3 linked regions of the Homo sapiens genome follow. The protein of the gene in region 1 interacts with the protein of each later gene in a pairwise test. Each region holds a gene or a part of one and is shown in the gene's direction. Other genes may lie near its edges.

What was found.
Region 2: the proteins of SMAP2 (region 1) and MAGED1 interact in binary tests that used the Homo sapiens proteins (3 or more experiments, as listed by UniProt).
Region 3: the proteins of SMAP2 (region 1) and DAB1 interact in binary tests that used the Homo sapiens proteins (3 or more experiments, as listed by UniProt).

The regions. Positions count from the first base shown.
Region 1 is NC_000001.11:40,418,076-40,424,550, forward strand, and holds the end of SMAP2 (stromal membrane-associated protein 2), read left to right. Parts: intron 1-3,900; coding exon 3,901-4,026; 3' UTR 4,027-5,247; downstream 5,248-6,475.
Region 2 is NC_000023.11:51,889,046-51,896,622, forward strand, and holds the start of MAGED1 (melanoma-associated antigen D1), read left to right. Parts: upstream 1-4,577; 5' UTR 4,578-4,710; intron 4,711-5,223; 5' UTR 5,224-5,259; coding exon 5,260-5,304; intron 5,305-5,581; coding exon of another isoform or gene 5,582-5,749; intron 5,750-6,007; coding exon 6,008-6,715; intron 6,716-7,363; coding exon 7,364-7,577. UniProt on the Homo sapiens protein: Involved in the apoptotic response after nerve growth factor (NGF) binding in neuronal cells. Inhibits cell cycle progression, and facilitates NGFR-mediated apoptosis. May act as a regulator of the function of DLX family members.
Region 3 is NC_000001.11:57,008,061-57,015,060, reverse strand, and holds part of DAB1 (disabled homolog 1), read left to right. Parts: coding exon 1-178; intron 179-363; exon of another isoform or gene 364-3,788; coding exon 3,789-3,916; exon of another isoform or gene 3,917-4,270; coding exon 4,271-4,366; 3' UTR 4,367-4,381; exon of another isoform or gene 4,382-7,000. UniProt on the Homo sapiens protein: Signaling adapter of the reelin-mediated signaling pathway, which regulates the migration and differentiation of postmitotic neurons during brain development.

The DNA.
Region 1 (6,475 bases):
TGTTACACAATCTACCAATCTGAATTAAATGTCCTTAAACATTTGCAGATAAGACAAAACACCTTAAATCAGAAATTCAAAAACTTAAAGCCAAAATGGATAAAAAACTGCATGCTGTGAAATGAAAGTTTACTAAACTCAGAAAAGAAATTGAAGAAAAAGCCAAAATTTTCGTATAAAGACTCAATTACAAGTTAGCTAAAGAACAATAGATTGAGCTGAAAATATATTCGGCATTGAGGAAAGGCATGAAACAGCTAAGAGAATGAAAACTAAATATAGAAAGTAGTAAAAAGAATTAGATGGAAATTAATATGGAAGTTAGGCAAAGAAAACTTACATATATTTGGAGATGCCCAAAGAAATAAAGACAAAATAAATAAAATATGGGACAGTATTAATGTGTTTAACACCAGAAAACATTCTAGAAATAAAAGACTTGGATATAATATGGAAAGAGCCCACTGTGTGTCTGGGAAAATTGACCCAGAACAGTCAACTTTAAAACATATCCCAGCAAATCTACAGACTTTAAAGAACATTCAAAATGTTTAGGGGTCCAACCTTTTCCATACCTCCTACCCACAAAAATCTGTTACTTAGAACAAACAAAAAATACCCAGGTTGACATCAGACTTCCTAGCAGCAAAATACAAAAAGAATAACAAGGAGAGTAGTATTTTAAAGACACTCAAGTGTATGCAAGACACAACAAGTATTTTACAACCAAGCCAGCCAAGCTATCCTTCAGGTATCAAGGCTGTAAAAAATAAATATGCAAGAACTCAGAGAATATCACACTTACAAGACTTTCCTGGGGAATCTAACAGAAGATAAGCTTCATCCACCTAAGAGATGACTGGGGTCATTTTCATTTTTGGCAAAAGAACTGATGGTGAGAATTGAATGTTTAATTGAGAATCTAAGACTAAAACAAAGGTGGTGACAAGCGTTGCAGAATATACATTATATTCTGACAAACAAATACAACTGAAAATGAAGGAGGAGGGAGAAAAGTTGAATAATAAATATTGTATGGGAAAGAAGTAGAAATCGAAGGATGCAATAAGCTGACAAACCAAATCACGGAAGCTTGAATAAGGAAAAAGGAGACCAAGGACATTGCTAAAAAGTATTACTATGAAGGTAATCACTAGAACAAACACGTGAAATGTTCTGAATACCAAGATAATTTTCTTCCTTTCTTTTTTTTTTTTTTTTTTGAGACAAAGTCTCACTCTGTCACCCAGGCTGGAATGCAGTGGCACAATCTCGGCTCACTGCAACCTCCGCCTCCTGGGTTCAAGTGATTCTTCTGCGTCAGCCTCCCGAGTAGCTGGGATTACAGGCACCCGCCACCACACCCGGTTAATTTTTTTTGTATTTTTTAGTAGAGACGGGGTTTCACCATGTTGGCCAGGCTAGTCTCAAACTCCTGACCTCAGGTGATCCACCCACCTTGGCCTCCCAAAGTGCTGGGATTACAGGCATGAGCCACTGCGCCCAGCTGAGAATTTTTAAAAACAGACTACAAAGTGCAGCAAATACAATAAACACAGTAAAAATCTAATATGATGGAGTTGAGACCAAACATACCAGTCATACCAGTAGGCAACTCTTCTATCAAAAGAAAATGATGTTCAAATTGGCTAACAAAGCAACACTAGTTTTGCACTAGGTACAAAGAAATACAAAGTGATTTAATGTGAAAACCAAGAGACAGGCAAAGGAACCCCAGAGAGGTGGTATGGTGCATGTGTACTGCACATGTGCATGTATAGCTATCTTTATCAGGGTTATACTTATTTATAAGAAGTACTTTTATGTTTTTGTTTCTCTGTGGTCCAGAATAATTTATGTAGCTCTGGTCTTTGAAGGTTTTGTGGAATTCCCATGTGAAGTTTGTGGGCACTATTGCTTTTTTTGTAGCAAATCTTTGATACTTTTCTCTGTTTCTTCTATGGAAGTCAATTTTGGAAAACTGTATTTACCTAGATTTTCCATTTCGCCAAGGTTTTCAAATTTATCAAAAGTTATGCCTAGCAGTCTCATTAATTTTTTTCAAAGAACCAGGATTTCGATTTATTGGTGCTACATTTTTCCGTTTTCTACCTCAATTTCCGTAGGCTTTCTATGGGTTTACTTTGTTATTTTCTAGCTTTCATAGTGGAGATTTTAATTCACTTATTTTCATTGTTTCGTTTTTATTTATATAAGTAATGGAATGCTATAAGTCTGATGGGAATATGTCAGAGGGACGCATGAGCCAACTTCCAGTGGCTCTGACTGGCCAAATGTGAGACAATTTGAACATCAAAAAGAGTAACAACAGTAATGGATTATGACACACTGAATGGAAAAAACAAAACAAAACCATGAGTCCACGGTGATATTTTTTAAAAACCAGGTGTGGAATGGAGGGAGGAAAAGCCTTCTTTACAGAAGAATGACAGTAGTTGTAAAAAGAGCAAAGGATTGACACATTTGCAAAGAAATGCCCTTCAGATTATTTATTAATTATAATGAAAGAAATATAGTCACTACCTCAGCCAAGTGATCAAACATAAAATTACTGACAGAGGAACAAAGTAATGTCATATGCTTCCTGATATTTTGTACTAAGAAAGACATGTGTCACCTCCATAGAATCTTGCCAAAAATATTGAACCTCGATCCAATTATGAGAAAACATGAGATGAATCCAAATTGAGGGGTATGCTACAAAATAACTGTCCTGGGTTCTTAAAAATGTCAGTGTCAGGAAGAAATGGAAGGAAGTGTTAGGGAAACTGGTCTAGCTTAAAGGAGACTACAGAGATCTGAAAATGAAATGCCATGTACATTAGAATATGGTGTTAATGTTAAAATTCTTGAGCGTGTTCATTGTTTTGTGGTTCTGTTAAAGTGTTCATTCTTATGAGGTGCCTCCTGACTTAGGAATGAAATGTCGTGATAGCTGCAGCTTTTTTTTTTTTTTAATCTGCAACTTTTGATACTCATCAAAAAAATGTAAGTTTTTTTATAGGGAGGGAGAGAAAATATGGCAAATGTTAACAGTTGGTGAATTTAAGGAAGAAGATACATGGGTTTTATTGTACTATTGTTTCAACTTTTATGTCAGTTTGAAATTTACTTTAAAAGTTGGTACAAGAAAATAATAGTTTCTCCTAAAGAAAAATAACTTATATAGAAAATTTACTAGGCTTAGGAAATTCAAGGCATTTTTCTCCATAAAGTATTTTTCTGTTCACTGCTAGGGGCCAGTCTTTCCATCAGATTCATGAAGGACCCCCGCCCCATCCTGCCCCAGGCCTTATTCCACTGACTGTTTTCTCCCAGCTCCTTCCCTTCTTATACACTGAAGACACATTAGTCTTCCCCCGCCCCCGCCCCGCCACCGCCTTTGTTCATTCTGAACAGTCCAGTTCCTTTTTTTCCCCCTTGTGCAAACGAGCAAGCCTGCTCAAGCGCTTTCCCTGACACTGACAGTAATAGCTGTGCTGAAGATGAGGCGGGAGCACTGGGGAGGGGGCTTTCCTTTCAGCTTTTAGGATTGGCCAGGCAAGTTAACAATAGGCCCCTTCTATTTAGGATGAGGGACTGGAAAGGAAAAAGAGAGGAACTCATGCTGATTTTCTGTCGACTAGATCCAGATGCCAGGATGCCTTCTTTCCCTCCCTGAGCTTTAGTCTCCGTCAGCATTGCACTCCCAAAAGGTCATTCACGTACGTGGCCTTGAAATGATCTGACTGCTAAGGTCCAGGGTTTACTGTCCATAACAGAGTTTCCCTTTGTCTCATTCTCCCCATCCTGGCAGAGAAAGGGACTCTCACCCTGCCTTTTGCACTAATTGGCGGAATGCCCACAGCCTGGTCTGAAAGTCTCCTCTCTCCCTTTCAGATGACCCAGCAGATGGCTGGGATGAACTTCTATGGAGCCAATGGCATGATGAACTATGGACAGTCAATGAGTGGCGGAAATGGACAGGCAGCAAATCAGACTCTCAGTCCTCAGATGTGGAAATAAAAACAAAACACCTGTATGGCTGCCATTCTCTTCAGCCCTCGCTCTCCCCTTTCCACAGCCTCCACCCCTGACCCCCATCCTCTTTTCCTACCTCTCTGTTTGGTTTAGAAATTGCTCAATAAGTCATTTGGGGTTTGGCATCCTGCCCAGCCACTTCCCAAACATGAAGACCTCTCTGTTGCTTTATGTTGTACATGCCCCATAGCCATCCCAACGTCCTCCCCAGTCCTCTCCTGGCACCAGCACCTTAGAAGTTGTTGGCAGAAGGCACTTAAACTGTGGGAGAAGTGTGCACACCTTTGAGTCCCTTCCCTCAAGGTTAAAGCTCCTGTCAGACTCTCAGAAGGGTCTGTGGGTGTTGTATATTAGGCAAACAGGGGAAAGCTTAGAGGTCCTTCTATATGTGTTAATAAGCTGTTTCTAAGTGTTTAAATTTGAAAAGCATCATGTTCTCATGATTTATGGGAATGAAGCAAGTACTGAAATCAAATTAAATACTCCCTGGGTCCTGGGTCAGTTTGACCCTAGCCCTGGGGTGAGGCAAGCCCCCTCCTATGAGGATGAGCAAAAATACTACTCTCTTCGCCCTGAGTTGCTTTCTGGATCTGGGGCTTCAGGACTTGCTGCTTCAGTCAGCCTTTATTAGCACCAAAGACTTTATGAAGATCCCACACACAGACACACATCCCTTCCCGCCTCCCCCCTGCCTTCAGTAGGATCTGGCTCCGTGGCTGGAGGACCAACCCCTATAGTGGGAATGCAGAGCTTAACGTGTACTGCTTGTGTGTGTGCGTGAGTGTGTGTGTGTGTATGAGTGTGTGTTCCGCCTCCCACCCTCTCCCCATCTGCTCTGGGTATTTTTGTTTTTGTTTAGTTTTAGGTTTACAACAGAGAGGAATTAATTTATCAGCAGCCTAAAACTGTTGTGTTTTTCTTATGGTTTAAAAAACGCCATGTCATTGATAACTCCCTTTCTCCCTTCCCTTCTCCCGGTCTGCTGATCACTCTTTCATGCCTGTGTATCCAGGGTGCTCTGTTTCCCCACCGTTCCCAGGTGTACGAGGCAGAGGGCCGGGACAGCTTTCCTCTCAGTCATTGTTCACCCCACTTGAAAATTCAGACAAGAAAACTTTGCTTAAAAGATTTCATGTGTGGGAACCACAGTTCCTGGCTGCCTTTCTCCTGTGTATGTGTAAATTCCTTAATAAATATTGCAGGGAAGGACTGTTTGCTTGGCCATTACTGTGCGTCACTCTTGGAGGAGGGTGCGTTACACTTAGGTTTTCTGTTTTCCAAAGGCAATTGTTTCACTTCCTGTATTTTAGAAAATTCTGTACTTCTCATACCCAAGGGTGAGGCCCAGGCTCCAGCAGTCAGAAAGGGGGCCTCTCTCCACTGGCATCTAGAGCTGTGAGCTGAGAGAACTCCAGAGATCAGCACCTTCTAGAGTCACAGAGCATCAGAGCGGCATGCTTTCCCCCCACAGGTGGAGAAACTGAGACACGGAGAAAGGACATGGTTGGCAAATGTCCACTAGAGAACCCTGGGCAGAACCGGCAGTAGCCTCCAAGTGTCTGGATTTCCAGCCCCTTGTTCTTTCCCTATACCATGGCAATTAAGTAGTGAGTTGAAATTCCTCTCTGCCAAGAGAGCAGTAGCTTTGGCTGGTAAAGGTAACTCACCCCTCTCTGAGCTATCAGAACTGGACCTTCCGTATCAGTGTCAGGAATTAGGACACTCAATCCTGGGGGCAGTACGAAATACAAAAGGCCGAAGACCATCTTTAGTGCATTTCCTGCTCCCTTTGACTCCTTTTCTGCTCTCAACAAATGTGATCCTTGGACCCTTCCTCCCTTCTTTCCTTTGAGTACACCCTTTGAGTCCTTAAAGATGTAAGTGGGAGGACAGCACAGTGACTAGGAAAGTTGGCTCTGGGTCAGGCTGCCAGTGTTCCTATCCCTTCCTACGCTGGGACCTGAGCAAATTACTGAACTCCTGTGTCCAGGTAAAATGGGGACAATGGTAATACTTAGGATAGTAAGAAGCAGTTCCTGTGGTATATTTAGCACACTACTGGGCACTTACTAAGCACTCAGATATTAGCAGGTATTACGTGCCAGATCTGTGTTAGGCAGTAGCTCATTTGACAAACATTTAATAAGTGTCAGTAATGTGCCAAAGAATGTTTTAGGCTCTAGAGACAAAGCAGTGAATAAAAACTGTCCAATCTCATAGGATAGTGTGGTAGGAGAAATGCATAATAAACAAATAGATTTAATTCAGACAGTATAAGACAAGGGGAGAGAGTGGGCACGGGGCCATTTGGATGGAGTGGTCAGGAGAAGGTTACATTTGGACTGAGACCTAAATAAGCAGCCAGTCCGTAGAGATCTGGAAAGAGTTGGAAATAGTTTGGGGGCATCAGTTTGGGAATCATGAGGGTACGGGT
Region 2 (7,577 bases), on another chromosome or scaffold:
TCTTGATTGCTGTGGTGTTTGTAGAGACTTCCACATGTGATAAGGTGATATAGAACTATATACACATATTGTACCAATGTCAGTGTCTTGGTTTTGATTTTGTACTGCAGTTACACAGATGTAACCATTGGGGAAGCAGATAAAGGGTACATAGAACCTCACTGTACTATCCTCGCAATTCCCTGTGTATCTGTAATTATTTCAAAATAAAAAGTTTAAAAAGTTTTTTAAAAGCAGAATTAATAAAATATTACCTAAAAGCAGTAGGGCATCAGTTATATTTCAAAAATCATGTCATAGGGCCGGGCATGGTGGCTCATGCCTGTAATCCTAACACTTTGGGAGGCTGAGGTGGGTGGATCACCTGAGGTCAGGAGTTCTACACCAGCCTGGCCAACATGGTGAAACCCCATCTCTCCTGAAAATAGAAAAATTATCCGGGCGTGGTGGTGGGTGCCTGTAATCCCAGTTACTCGGGAGGCTCTAGCAGGAGAATCACTTGAACCTGGGAGGTGGAGGTTGTAGTGAGCTGAGATCATGCCACTGCACTCCAGCCTGAGTGAAAGAGTGAGACTCTGTCTCAAAAAAAAAAAAAAAAAAAAAAAAAGCCATATGTATTAGCTGGTTGGATACCATTGCTGCCGCTACTGAACAGTGGACACCGGATGTTAGCCCTGCCACTAATGCTGCCCCTAGAAACTGGATTTTCTTGTGGCTGCTGCTCCCACCACCACAACTATGGTGGTGAATTCCATCACTGCATATTTGAATCACTCCTTTGAAACAAAGTGTTAGGTCTAAGTTGTAACTGCAGTGAAAGGGTTGTACTCAGCAGGTCTGCAATGTTCAAACCCTATGCTTTCCAAAAAAAGGTCTTTTGCAAAGAATGCTTTGGCTCTTGACCAGCTCTTGGGAGATAATCTGTAAGCCCTTGGAAGTATCCTGCCTGATCAGAGTGTCTTTGTTTACTGTGGCCTTGGCCCACACTGGATAGTTTGTGCTAACAGTGTGATTTGTGGTGTGAGCCTTGGGCTGAGAGATACTAGTTTAACCTCTGCATGGACTAGAGACTGAATAACTAAGGTCAACCACACAGGTGCTCCATGCCTATCTGACTGAACCCCAAAAACAACTCTGGGCACCAAGGCTTGGGTGAACTTCCCTGGTTGACAGTATTTCATACATGTTTTCACACATCATTGTTGGGGGAATTAAGCACTGGCCATACAACTCCATTGGGAGAGTACAACTGAAAAGTCGTGCCTGGTCTCTCCTGAATTTTTCCCTATGCACTTTTTACTTTTGCTGATTTTAATCTGTATCCTTTCACTGTAATAAACAATAGCCATAACACTTTTTCTGAGTTCTCCGAATCCTTCTAGCAAATCATTGAATCTGAGGATGGTCTTCAGGAGCTTGCCACACTGGTAAATCCTAGATCACATTCTCTTAGCTGCCAAGGGCATGTGAAGAAGTGAATATCTGGCCTTTGTGGCTTTTGCACTTGGAACTGTTAAGTAAGAATATATATGACCTTACTAAAATGTTAAAAATCGAAATACATCTGGCCCCAAGGGTTTTCAGTAAGGATCTATAACGCTATATAAAGAACTCCTAAAAGTCAGTAAGACAGACAACCCAAATGAAAAACAGGTAAAATATACAAGCATATTACAAAATAAATCTAATATGTTCATTAATGTATAAAAATGTGTTCTACCACATTGCTTATCAGAAATATAAATTAAAACCATAAGGAGATACCAATAAATACACATAAGATTGGCAAAAAAAAAAAAAAAAAGGAAAAGTCTTGTAGAGTATGTCAGTCTTACTCCTGGGCTTCTGGTGTCACGGAAATAAAGACAAACATTAATTATTAAAGTATAAGAATACATGTACAAGTATTTTTATTGCAATGTTGTTGTATTGCCACGCTCCCCACAAAAATCCTGAAACTAAAATGGATTCCATCCATGGGGGAATGGTTAAATACATTGTGGTACATTCTTACCATGGAATATTATGCAGTCATTTAAAAGAACGAATCACAGGTAGACTGTTGTCAAATAAGATAATTCAGACACATAAAAGTTCATGTAATCTTAAATTTGTAAAAATAAAAAACAACTTTTGAGTATGGAAGGATATCAAATGGTGTTAAAAACAAGTGTTTGGCAGGTGAAGGTAGAATTGAAAGGAAGTGGGAAGCAGTAAGGAAAAGAATGCAATTTAAGGTCTGGCATATATAACACATCATTTATGTAACAACATATATGTGTGTAAAGTATGAAAAGGTAGCACCAAATCTAAGCAATTGTCCAAGGTGATGAGATTTAGTGATGTTTATTTAATTTCTAAAATATTTAGGCAGTGTTTGAATGTATAGTGATGAGTGTGCATTATTTGTATAATGAGGAAAAATAAGTGAATTGATCACAGGAAAAATTGCCTCTCAGGTTTCTTGCTTTAGCAATGGGATGGAGAGTGCGATTCATTCATTTAACAAATATTTATTGAGGATATAAAAATGTGCCAGGCATGGTTCTAGGTGCTGGGGAAACAACAATGAATAAAACAAAAATCTGTCTCCCTAAGAGGTTTACACTCTAAATGGGGGAGAAAGGCATAACTAGAGGAGAAACACTGTGTTGGTGGGAAGGAGGAGGCGTATGAAGGAATCGGTTTGGGACCTGTTAATTTAGAGAATACTGAGAGATATCCATTTGGAGAAGTGAGGTAGGTAGTTACTATGGATCTAGAATTCATAGGCCAAGTCATGACCGAAGATACAGATATGGAAACAGATAGCATAGAAAATGGTGTTTCTGACCTCCTTTCCTGAGTCTGATCACGTCTCACTGCAGACACTTTACAGAGGAAGTGCTGAGGAAAAACAGGCAGCTGACAGAGGAGGTTGCTATGCAACAGATGAGGAAAGTCATCCAGCCAGGCAGAACTGATGTTGGCCCTTGGGGACCAAATGCTGCAGTCCTTCCTAGCATTAGCTTCCTTTCATGTTCAGGCTTCTGGCATGAGTTGATGCCAGAACAAATGTGAACTGCACAAAGATCTGTCTTGAATTTTGGAACTGTACCAGTTTAATTTGAGTCACCTCACATCTGTATTTAATTTTCTGCCTTTTTGAGTTTCTCCAGTTATCCTGGAAGCATAGCAGCGTGTGTGTCCTTGGGTAGGACCCACTTGCTGTGCATTCCACTTTGCACATTGAGAAACCAGGCCCAGAGAATTGAGTGACCCGTGCGGGCTCACACAGCTCGAGACAGACAGGCTGGGCACTCCATTCCTGGAATTCTGAAGCCCAGCCCAGTTTCTCTCCATAAAACCACAGCTGCCCCAGGCCCCAGCCCTGAAAGGAACCAGGGCTTGCCATGGCTCAGACACACAGGTCTGATTGTCCTGGCTGCTCCAGTGGGCACCAGGAAGGCCTCAGGGACAGTGTGATTGTATCCCTGATAAGGAAGAGGCCTGATGTTCTGAGCACAGAGTGGACCCCAAGGAGCAATTCCCACGCCTGGATGGACCCACACAGGGCAGGGGGAGGGTGGGGGCCTCTGCTTGTGTCCTCCTGAATGCAGAGCATGAGCTTGGGCCTCCTAGAACACAAACTTTGCTTGTTTGGTACAAATGGGGTGCCGTGGTCTGTTGCTCAAATGGAGGAGGGAGGGGTACCCTTAGTCCCCAGGCCAGCATGAGCAGAATGTGGGCTTTGGAGTCAGGAAGACCCAGACCCAAATTTTGCATTTTGTTTCCTGGCTCTGTGGCCTTGTCTAGTTCATGCAATGTATCTGTGCCTCAGCTTCCTGATCTGCAAAATAGGGGTGCTGACATCCACTTCCCAGGGCTGCTGTGACAGGAAGACAAGCCCCAGCACAAATCCTGCTGTGATGTACAAGCTGTGCCCTTCCCTCCTTTCCTCCCCCAACACACACAAAATGAGTCCATCACCGGAGCTGCAGAAAGAAAGGGAAGAAACTAACGTTCTTTCTGCGTCTGGGAGCTTGTGGGGGCGGGCAGGGGGTGAGGGAGAAATCATGGAGTCACGTGGCAGCCACAGACTTACTACTACTACTTTGTTAGCTCCAATAGTGTATCCTCTCAGGCCATTCCGTTTCCTCAGCAGAGGTCTAACACTTGTTGCAATTAGAGACCCCAAACAGAGACCTAAGCATGCTGGACAAGGGGGTGGAGATGCAAGCCGGCCTGACAGGAGGGGCCTTGAATAGGGGAGGGACGGAATAGAGACGCATTGCGGAAAAGGTAGGGGGCCGGTGTGTGGGGCAAGGGGTGGGACCAAGAGGCACAGCGCATCTGTGGGGGAGGGGGCGTAGAGGAAGGGGAGGTGCTGTTGTATAGTGTCGACCTGGTTGGTGGTGGGGTGGTGTGTTGGCAAAGGGGGCGGGACCGCCTTCCAGCGCACATGCGCATCATGGTCTCCAGGACGAAGCTTTTGTTGGGAAAGCAGGCGGGACTGACTTTGGCTCTTCAGTGTTTGCGCATGCGCGTAACGTCCTGAGGCGGTGGGTGGTATATTAGGCGAAGAGGCGGGGTCGCCCAAGCTGCCGCGCTGGCATTTTCTCCTGGACAAGGAGAGAGTGCGGCTGCTGAGAGCCGAGCCCAGCAATCCCGATCCTCTGAGTCGTGAAGAAGGGAGGCAGCGAGGGGGTTGGGGTTGGGGCCTGAGGCAAGGTGAGAATTAGCCCCCAGACTGGGCATCTGCCCCCTGGTGCGGGCCCCCATTTTTTTTTATCCCGATCCCTTCACCCTGGATTCTGAATCCCCTTCCACCCCCCAAACCCCAATTCAATGCCCCTCCCGATCCTTCCTGATTCAAAACCCCTGTCCGATCCCTCCCATCGTTCGAAATCCTCAGATTCCTTGACCTCGATCTGTACTGTTAGATGATTCCTCCTGACTCAAAACCTCCATGCAACTTCCCAAATGCGAATCCCAACCCAACCGCACCCCCGCTCCGAATTCAGAACTCATCTGCTTCCCGATCCCCATTTGAAGCTTCGCCCTGTCAGTAGCTTCTCGGGGTTCAGAACCTCCATCTGGACGCCCATTCACTTTTACCGCTCCGATCCGTTCCTCCTCACATTCACCTTATCCGCCCGCACAGTCAGACCACAGTCACCCCCCTCCCAATTAGGTCCTTCGTATTTGCCCTCTGTAGTATAACGCCCTGCCCCTCTCCCACAGCCCCCAGGCTCCGCTCTTGCCAGAGGGACAGGAGCCATGGCTCAGAAAATGGACTGTGGTGCGGGCCTCCTCGGCTTCCAGGTGAGATCTCCACTCCCCACCCCACCATTTCCCCAGCCGACAGTCACCCCTCCCCGCGGGCCTCTTTGGTCTCCCAAACGCCGGGATCCGGTTTGACCCTATTTAGTGACTAGACTCCGTGGGCTTTTCGAATTCCCATCGTTTATCGAAGGGGGGGAGGGGCGTCTCTTTTCAGCCATCAGTCCCTGCTCAGAGAGAGGGGAGACCCTGTTAGTAGTCAGGGCAATCTGCCCAGAGAATGCGGGGTGGGTAAGGAACCATTTTTTTTTTTTTCCAGAATCCTGACGCTTGTAGAGCAGTCTGTCACCCCCTCCCCCAGCCTCCTGCCTCCACCCTCCCTCTTTCTGCATTCCCCACTCTGTGCGACCCCCCTTATTCTCAACTCCGCGATCCGCCTGCCGTCCTGAGCTGCTACTGCACGCCTCTTGGAGCGTCCCCGGCTCCTGTTCGTGCCCACTTTCCGCATACCGCCCCACCCCTCATTTTGCCCTTGCCCTACTTCACCCCTGCCACATGTTTAGTACCCGCCTGGTCCCCCATCGCCCCTCGCGGGCCCCCTAGATCTCTGCCTCAGCCCCCCTGTTTTTGCACCCACCGCCCGCCTGCAGCTCCGCTGCTGCGCTGCCACCCGGGCTCCCTATTCCCACCCCACCTCCTGCCTCAGAGGCCCAGAGATTTAATTTTTTCCCCCCTGTGTTTGCAGGCTGAGGCCTCCGTAGAAGACAGCGCCTTGCTTATGCAGACCTTGATGGAGGCCATCCAGATCTCAGAGGCTCCACCTACTAACCAGGCCACCGCAGCTGCTAGTCCCCAGAGTTCACAGCCCCCAACTGCCAATGAGATGGCTGACATTCAGGTTTCAGCAGCTGCCGCTAGGCCTAAGTCAGCCTTTAAAGTCCAGAATGCCACCACAAAAGGCCCAAATGGTGTCTATGATTTCTCTCAGGCTCATAATGCCAAGGATGTGCCCAACACGCAGCCCAAGGCAGCCTTTAAGTCCCAAAATGCTACCCCAAAGGGTCCAAATGCTGCCTATGATTTTTCCCAGGCAGCAACCACTGGTGAGTTAGCTGCTAACAAGTCTGAGATGGCCTTCAAGGCCCAGAATGCCACTACTAAAGTGGGCCCAAATGCCACCTACAATTTCTCTCAGTCTCTCAATGCCAATGACCTGGCCAACAGCAGGCCTAAGACCCCTTTCAAGGCTTGGAATGATACCACTAAGGCCCCAACAGCTGATACCCAGACCCAGAATGTAAATCAGGCCAAAATGGCCACTTCCCAGGCTGACATAGAGACCGACCCAGGTATCTCTGAACCTGACGGTGCAACTGCACAGACATCAGCAGATGGTTCCCAGGCTCAGAATCTGGAGTCCCGGACAATAATTCGGGGCAAGAGGACCCGCAAGGTGAGATCTCTGCTAACTTCATTTTGCTTTGGGGCTGTCTCCTTTCTTCTCTGAGGGTGTTCATTTGTTCTAAACAAAACAATGTATGTAACTGTATTCAGCTAGGCTATAGGGCATTTGAAGAGAATGTTTATTCCTGTCCTCCGGATGTTCACAAACTGATGGGGAGATAATACATGGACACAAATAATATATACAACCTGTATGTAATTCAGTTTACATTTTGTTATGTTAGTAACCACCATGTGTTAAGCCTTGAGCTAGGCACATTCACACAGGTTGTCTCATTAAACCTTAAAGGCACCTCCTACCAGGTAGGGATCATAGTGCCAATTTTACAAAGAAGGAAATTAAGTGCCAGAGAGGTGAAGTGACTTGAGTGATTTGTTCAGGGTGGTACAGGCAGAACCAGTGGTGGACATAGGAAGAGGAGAAGCCTCAGGCCCCATCTTTGGGTTGCTCCTGGCCTGGCTCGGAGATGAAACTCCTGCCTGGAAGACAGTGAAAGACAAACCCAGGACTCAGGGTGACCAATGGCTAGTGGGTCAGGCTGTCACTACAGGTGAGGGTTTAGAGGGCATTCCTGGAATAGATAAGGTGAGGACACAGAACCCACTGGTGATTCTGAACTTCTCTCTGATGATGCAGATTAATAACTTGAATGTTGAAGAGAACAGCAGTGGGGATCAGAGGCGGGCCCCACTGGCTGCAGGGACCTGGAGGTCTGCACCAGTTCCAGTGACCACTCAGAACCCACCTGGCGCACCCCCCAATGTGCTCTGGCAGACGCCATTGGCTTGGCAGAACCCCTCAGGCTGGCAAAACCAGACAGCCAGGCAGACCCCACCAGCACGTCAGAGCC
Region 3 (7,000 bases), about 17 Mb from region 1:
CCTCCGCCCGTGCCCTCCCGCAAACCCGACCAGCCCTCCCTCACCTGTACCTCAGAGGCCTTCTCCAGTTACTTCAACAAAGTCGGGGTGGCACAGGATACAGACGACTGTGATGACTTTGACATCTCCCAGTTGAATTTGACCCCTGTGACTTCTACCACACCATCGACCAACTCACGTGAGTGCCCCTCACTTAAGACATAAAACCCAATGAGAGCCGTAACTCATGTCTGGAGGCGGGGTTTCTGGAGTCAAATAACTCATCTCACTTGCATTAATCAGGCTTCTTTGTTTATATTATTATTACTAGTAATACTACTATGAGCTGCCAATTTAGATACCACTGATAACATACAAACCTTCTTCATATGTTCCATGTTTATTTTTAGACTTATAATAATGCTTAATGATAAATTTTGTTAGACCTGTTTGACAGATAATGAAAGTGAGGCTCAAAGATGAAGACAATAGACAAAGTGGTATTGAATTGAATGTAAGCCTGGTATTTTTCCACCATGTTACTCTGCCTCTTAAGATTTTGTTTGTTTGCTCATTCATTCGTTCATTTATTTACGTATAGATAGCTTATGACACACAGATTTTGGCGTGGCTTATTGAAATAAAATGAATGCAAACTTTAAAAATTTGGGGAACAAGTTTTAAACATTAGAATATAAAATAAGGATCAAGAGAAAACTTAGGGCAGAGATACGCAGCCATAAGGTCTTAAATAGCTTTTATAGTTGAAGCCTCATTTTGGGTTAAAGCTTCTGGTAGTTAAAGGGAACAAAAAGATAGTGCTGCAGAAAGTTCTGGACTGGGAACCTGGAGATCAGATTTATTACTGACCAGTTTTGTGCCTTTTGGCAAAGCACTTTATTTCTATGAGCCTTGGTTTCCTCATCTGTGTAAGCGATGGGTTATTAAAAGGATTCAATGGTATATGTGCTCAAACATTATAGAACTCCCAGAATTTGAAGTATCTTTTATCCTCATTATTAGCACATGTTAAGTGTTTTTTTGCAGTCCTGGACCAGAGTTCTGGTGTTGACTCCTCCACCACAAGCTGTGTCTTTGGGCAAGCGTATGACTTCTCTGAGACTCAGTTTTATCATTGGTAAAATAAGTGAATTGGCTTGGATGAGCAGTGTGCATCCTTCTAGTTCCAGCTTTCAGTGAGTCTCCTCCAGCTCATATTTCTTCTGCAAACATCTGGAAAACAGTGACTGTGCAGCCAAATCAGAATCCAGATACACTTGAGCACATGTACACTTGTTTGACACAATTCAGGGAAGGTGTTCTGATGACTCAGCCTGTGCCTTGACACCTGATAAGAGGAAAGAAAAGGCTCATGCTGCAGTGAGTTTGGCGGTTTCATTACTGTCACAGGTGATATGGATCACTGCATGGCCAATACTGTGAACTGTCAAAAAAAAACACCCCTAATGTTAATACAATTAGATTGTGCCATTTCAGCCAGGTTCAGAATGCTATTCTGAAAATGAATGCCCTTAACGTGTATAAACAACCCACTTGCACTCAGGCCATATGATCTACATAGTGGCAGCATCTCTATTTATGCAGACTCACAGGGTTTCAATGAGGAATAATGAATAAAAAATGAAATGTTAAAGAAATGACAGCCATGCATAAATAAGCAAGCATCTTTTTAAAAACAAACATCTCTCTTTCAATGGACTTGTGTGCCAGCTACAAATGAAAGAGGAGAGTTTAAGTTCTTTGAGGGCAGGAACTGGCTCCATCATTCCTACACTTCTCATAATGCTAGCTTAGTGCCTGGGACATGAGAGGCATTTGGGAAAGGTTATAGAGAATGAAATAAACAAAATGGAGATGACTTAGCTACTGTTATGTTTTAGAGCATCGTTGGCAACCTCGGCACTATGGACATGTTGGGCCAGATAATTCTTTGTTTCAGAGGCTGTCCCATTGTAGGATGTTTAGCAGCAACGCTGGCCTCTAATCACTCTATGAGAGAAACGTATATCCCCTTCCTCTAGTGTCGAGAAAAATGACTCCAAGCATTGCCAAATGTACCCCAGGGATGAAATTGCCCCAGACTGAGAACCACTGCTTTAGAGTATTAGCAGCATCCTATAAAGCCTTCTAAAGATTAAGACACCTGCATAAATAAACTCCTGCTTATGCTTTCCATTGATTTCATTAGGTAAGTCTGAGCAGTATACCTGCCAGAACTGGCAACTCAGCTTGTGTTCTCAACCTTTAGTAAGCAAAAATCCACTTCAAATACAATTCAGGATCTAATTAAGCTAATATTTATTAAACATCTACTACCCTTCAGGGTGTTTGCATATAGCTTTAAACCCACTTTCAATACAGTTTGTTCCATAGTCATCTCCTGAAACAAAACAGATTTCATTGCAAATTTTTTTCCAAAAACTTGCTGTTTTATTTTGAACAAAATTAGAACCAGTCTTTATATCCTCTGACCCATCAGTATCCCCTTAAGAATGTTTTGGGAAGAGGATTGGTTGGATCAAAAGTGAACCTCAAATAGAAACAGAAAAGCACAGTTGGACTGGATAGTGTCAGACAGAGCTCTGTTAAATGCCAGTGCTGCTATTTCATAGCTGTGTTAACCCTTCGCAAGACACCTCACCTCCCTGAGCTGCAATTTCTCCATCTGGGAAACAAAAAAGTTATGATAACAACTTGCAGGTATTTATATTAAGGTGTATAATGAATGGGAAGTGCCTAGCACAGTGTCCAACTCATTGGCACATTATAAATAATAAGTTAGGAAATAGCATCATCTTTCTATATATAGATTCATCAGAGTAAAAAGTATGCACTAAGTTTTACAATCATTCACTGTCTGATTTCTAAGTTCTATAACATTAGGAAAATTCAGCTGCTAAATGAAGTCATGCCACCCTCTCACTTGGGTCTTAGCCAGTAACCAGTATTTTCAGTGACAAATTAGAATTTATTAAAAGAAGAGTGGTATCAAATGGCATATTTGTTCTAAACCTCTAAAACAAATGAGAGGAGATGTGGGTGGGTCAGCCCAGAAAATGCGTATCCTTTGTCCTTATAGAATCAAGTACCAGCTGTGAAGTTGCCATCAGCTACATCCATTTTCCCAGATCACTGAGACACTTTCTCTTTATTCAACATGTGTTTATTGAATACCTCCTATGTGCCAGGATTCAGAATCTGGTTCTACCAGTTGCCATGAGCAAATTAGCAAACTTCACTTTCCTTACCTGTCAAATTAGGATAACCTCTACCTCAAAGATGTTTTATGAGGATTAGAGATATTGTCTGTAAAGTTTCTAACAGTGTTTGACACATGAAAGGCGCTCAATAACGTGCCCTCTGATGAAACACAGAAAGAAGAAAGCAAACCATAGCCCAGTAGTTCTCAGCTTGATCATGCATCAGAATAACCTGTAGCAGGTTGTTCAAACACAGAGTCTGTGATTCAGTAGATCTGGGGTAGGGTCAGAAAATTTCATTTCTAACAAATTCCCAGATGCTACTGCTGCTGCTTGTCCAAGGACCATCCTTTGAGAACCACTGCCTTACCTATCAGTGTGGACGAGCTCCTTCCTGAAGTCAGATGTGTGAGAGGAAAGATCAATACGTACAGAGAGAGAATTCAAATATTCAACTGATTCCACTGGAAATAGGAAGAGGAATCCTAAGATTTGACTTCAATATAAGCAGATTCCTGAGGTTTCTTTGGGATACATTCATGGCAGCCAGGCACTTAAGATGTCTCTTTTTCTGTGGTCTCTGTGTAGCTCCAACCCCAGCCCCTAGACAGAGCTCTCCATCCAAATCATCTGCATCCCATGCCAGTGATCCTACCACAGATGACATCTTTGAAGAGGGCTTTGAAAGTCCCAGCAAAAGCGAAGAGCAAGAAGCTGTAAGTGACCAGTTTGTTATTTGTTTGTGTTTTTCCTTAAAATTAAGACCTCTGTAACTGAAATGGATAATGCATGAGGAAGCCTACATAGAAAAGAATGCTGGCTCAATCTCATAAGTTCTCAAGGGGTTGCTAAAGGGGCTTTCTTTTGTGTTCAAATGAGTCAGCTGAAAAGGACTGCCTTTTTATTAAATTGTTACTACAAGTCCACATTTGTGGTGTAGCATCCTCTAAATGCCGTTGCACCCTCCTTTACAATAACTGATTGTGCTGCATGAAAGTATATCCAGGTGTCTTATATTTTCAATGCTTGAAAAGAGAGAAAAAAAAAAGTATTATCTTCTTGTGTTCTAGCCTGATGGATCACAGGCCTCATCCAACAGTGATCCATTTGGTGAGCCCAGTGGGGAGCCCAGTGGTGATAATATAAGTCCACAGGCCGGTAGCTAGATAGCGCAGGTCTGGGTAGGTATCTGTCCTTTTTATCTCCTTTACCCTTAAGCTATCTGCTTTCCCTTTTGGTTGTTCTTCACTTCTGAAGCCACATCCTCAATGTTTGCACCATGTCTCCTTGCCTGAGCTGTATTGCTGATGTTTGCACCATCGCTCCTTCCCTGAACTGTATTCCTGATGTTTGCACTATTTCTTCTTGCCTGAGCTATATCACCAGTGTCTGCACCATGTCCCTTTGCCTGGTGTCTACGTTCTACTTTGCCTTTTCTCATGGATGCATGACCTTTGACATATCCTGGGAGGTAGGGGTAGGGGTGAGAAGTGGGAACTGATCATATTATTTTATTAATAATATGTTCTGCGTGGTTGGTGGTGATAGAATGAGGCATGGTCCATGCTACTTAGCATGCATTTAGTTTCTGGAAGCATCAACATTTTGAGATGGACACATTCTGCCCACCCTGATAATTTCTCAGTGAGCCATGGTCCAGATGCTTTAATCTTTTAAGCAAAATGTCACTGCATTTGCCTACAGTCTGCAGATCTAAAGAGGTCACCAATCAAACACACAGAGAAGCCAGACTAAGAAGCAAAAACAAGCAGTGCTTGAAATAAGATTGATCGAGATGTAAGATCAGAGGAAGCCCTTTTCGTCTAGCCAGAAAGGACCCTGCACCCTGCATCCTTTCTGATGTGAAATTCAAAGCCCAGAGATGTGTAGCACTCACTTCTGAGGCTGTGCTGTTTGCACCTGTGCTGCAGCATGTGGATTGCCACCAAATCACTTCAGATTCCATCAGCAGCTACTTTGAGAGAGATGTACTTACATTTACTAGAAGTGGCTTTTGGCACTTGAATTTCAATACATCTGATTTGATCGAAAGAAAGAGGAGCTGATGAAGCAAACCTTCTTAGGAGACAGAAGTACACCTTGTTACCCAGACATGATTTCTAAGGTCACTTCTTGACAAACGTGTTCAATTTTCAGATACCTTCTTAGTTTTCTATAAACACACAGGACTGCAAGGCCATTCCCAAAAGGCTCCTTTTTTAAGTTCTGAACAGCATGGTCAAAACCATTAAAATGGTAAACAGTTTTCTCCACTCATAAATGGATTCGGAGGCTACCTCATAAATGGATTCTGAGGCTACCTCAGAATTAGTCTTAGCCCACACGTAAGTTAGACAGTTACTGAAAGCTAATATGGTATTTTGAAAGTGTATTTTGTTAACAGGTATTTTTATTAAAGAACCTAACACACTGTGTAGGTTGCCACATTTTGTATCAGTGCAATAGCACATAATAATATGTCATGCCATGCAAAACCACCTACGATTCACTTAGAAGTTCACTCTTGCAAAGCTACTTCGGGAGTTGATATATTGAAAGCAAAGTCAATGTTTCAGGAAAAAGAAAAGTTGGGGACTATAGGCAGACTCCTTGGGATGATTCCCCACGAGGTATTTTACCCCCCGCCTAAGTTGTATTTCACGTGCTCAACCTTGCCTTGAAAAATTTGGTGAATAAACTAGAGGTGACAAGAGCCATTCATCAGGATAACAGCAAACATCATCCTAAAATTGAAGTTCTTCTAGAAAACAAAGATGACTTACACCATTTGCAGATCAATGTATTAAACCCTCATCTTTATGAACCTGTTCAGCTTGAGACAATCCTACAAGCCAAACTGTTTCATGGGGCTTTGGTCTGTTCCACATTTAATGCTCTGTCCAGTACCCCAAGCCACAGCTGAGCTGTAAATGGACATAGCATAGTAGTGTGGGAAGAACTCAGGATTTGGACTTGAGTTTAAATCCTAACTCAGCTACTTAATAGTGGGAAATCTTGGGCAAGAACCAAAATTTGAGTCTTGGTTTCTTCATCTGCTAGAAGGGGCTTATATTCTCCATAATGGTAACTGAGATAGTTTATGTTGAGTATCTAGCGCAGAGACAGACACTGAGTAATCAGCTTAAAATTCAGCTTAAAAAAAATATCTAGGTTCTGGAACAACATTGTTTGAGTTCAGCATCTGGCTCCACCACTTCCTGGCTATGTGACACTGCTGTGATTTTATAATTATTCTCTATCTTATTTTCTTCATTTGAAAAATAAGGATAAAAATAGTGTCCACCTCATAGGGTTATTATGTGAACTAAATAAAGTGATATATGTGAAGCTCTTAGCACTGTGTATAGCACATAGAAAGCACCTAATAGATGCTAGCTACCCTCATCATCACCATCACCATCATCATTATCATCATCATTATCATCATCACATATATCCAATTAATGCACGCTCCCCACTCTCTTGGATTTTATACATTTAGCTTTCATGTATAAGACCATTGGTTGGGAGGTTTTGCTTTGTACTTTGTCTTCAGATAATTAATTTTCAATATGTGTCACAACAGCTTTGGAAGGGAAAAAAAGAAAAAAGCCTGCTGCTTAGCTCTCTGGCTTGCCCCACCCCATAATCAGAATGGCCCTGGTTTGGGCCTCACACAGCTCACTGCCAAAAAATGGGCTGTCTTAGAATCACATGCAAGTCAAAATAAGTACCTCCCAGCTCCAGAGGAGGGCTGGACTGTAATCTTCGGTGAAGTAATTTTCTCCCTTTGAAAGCTT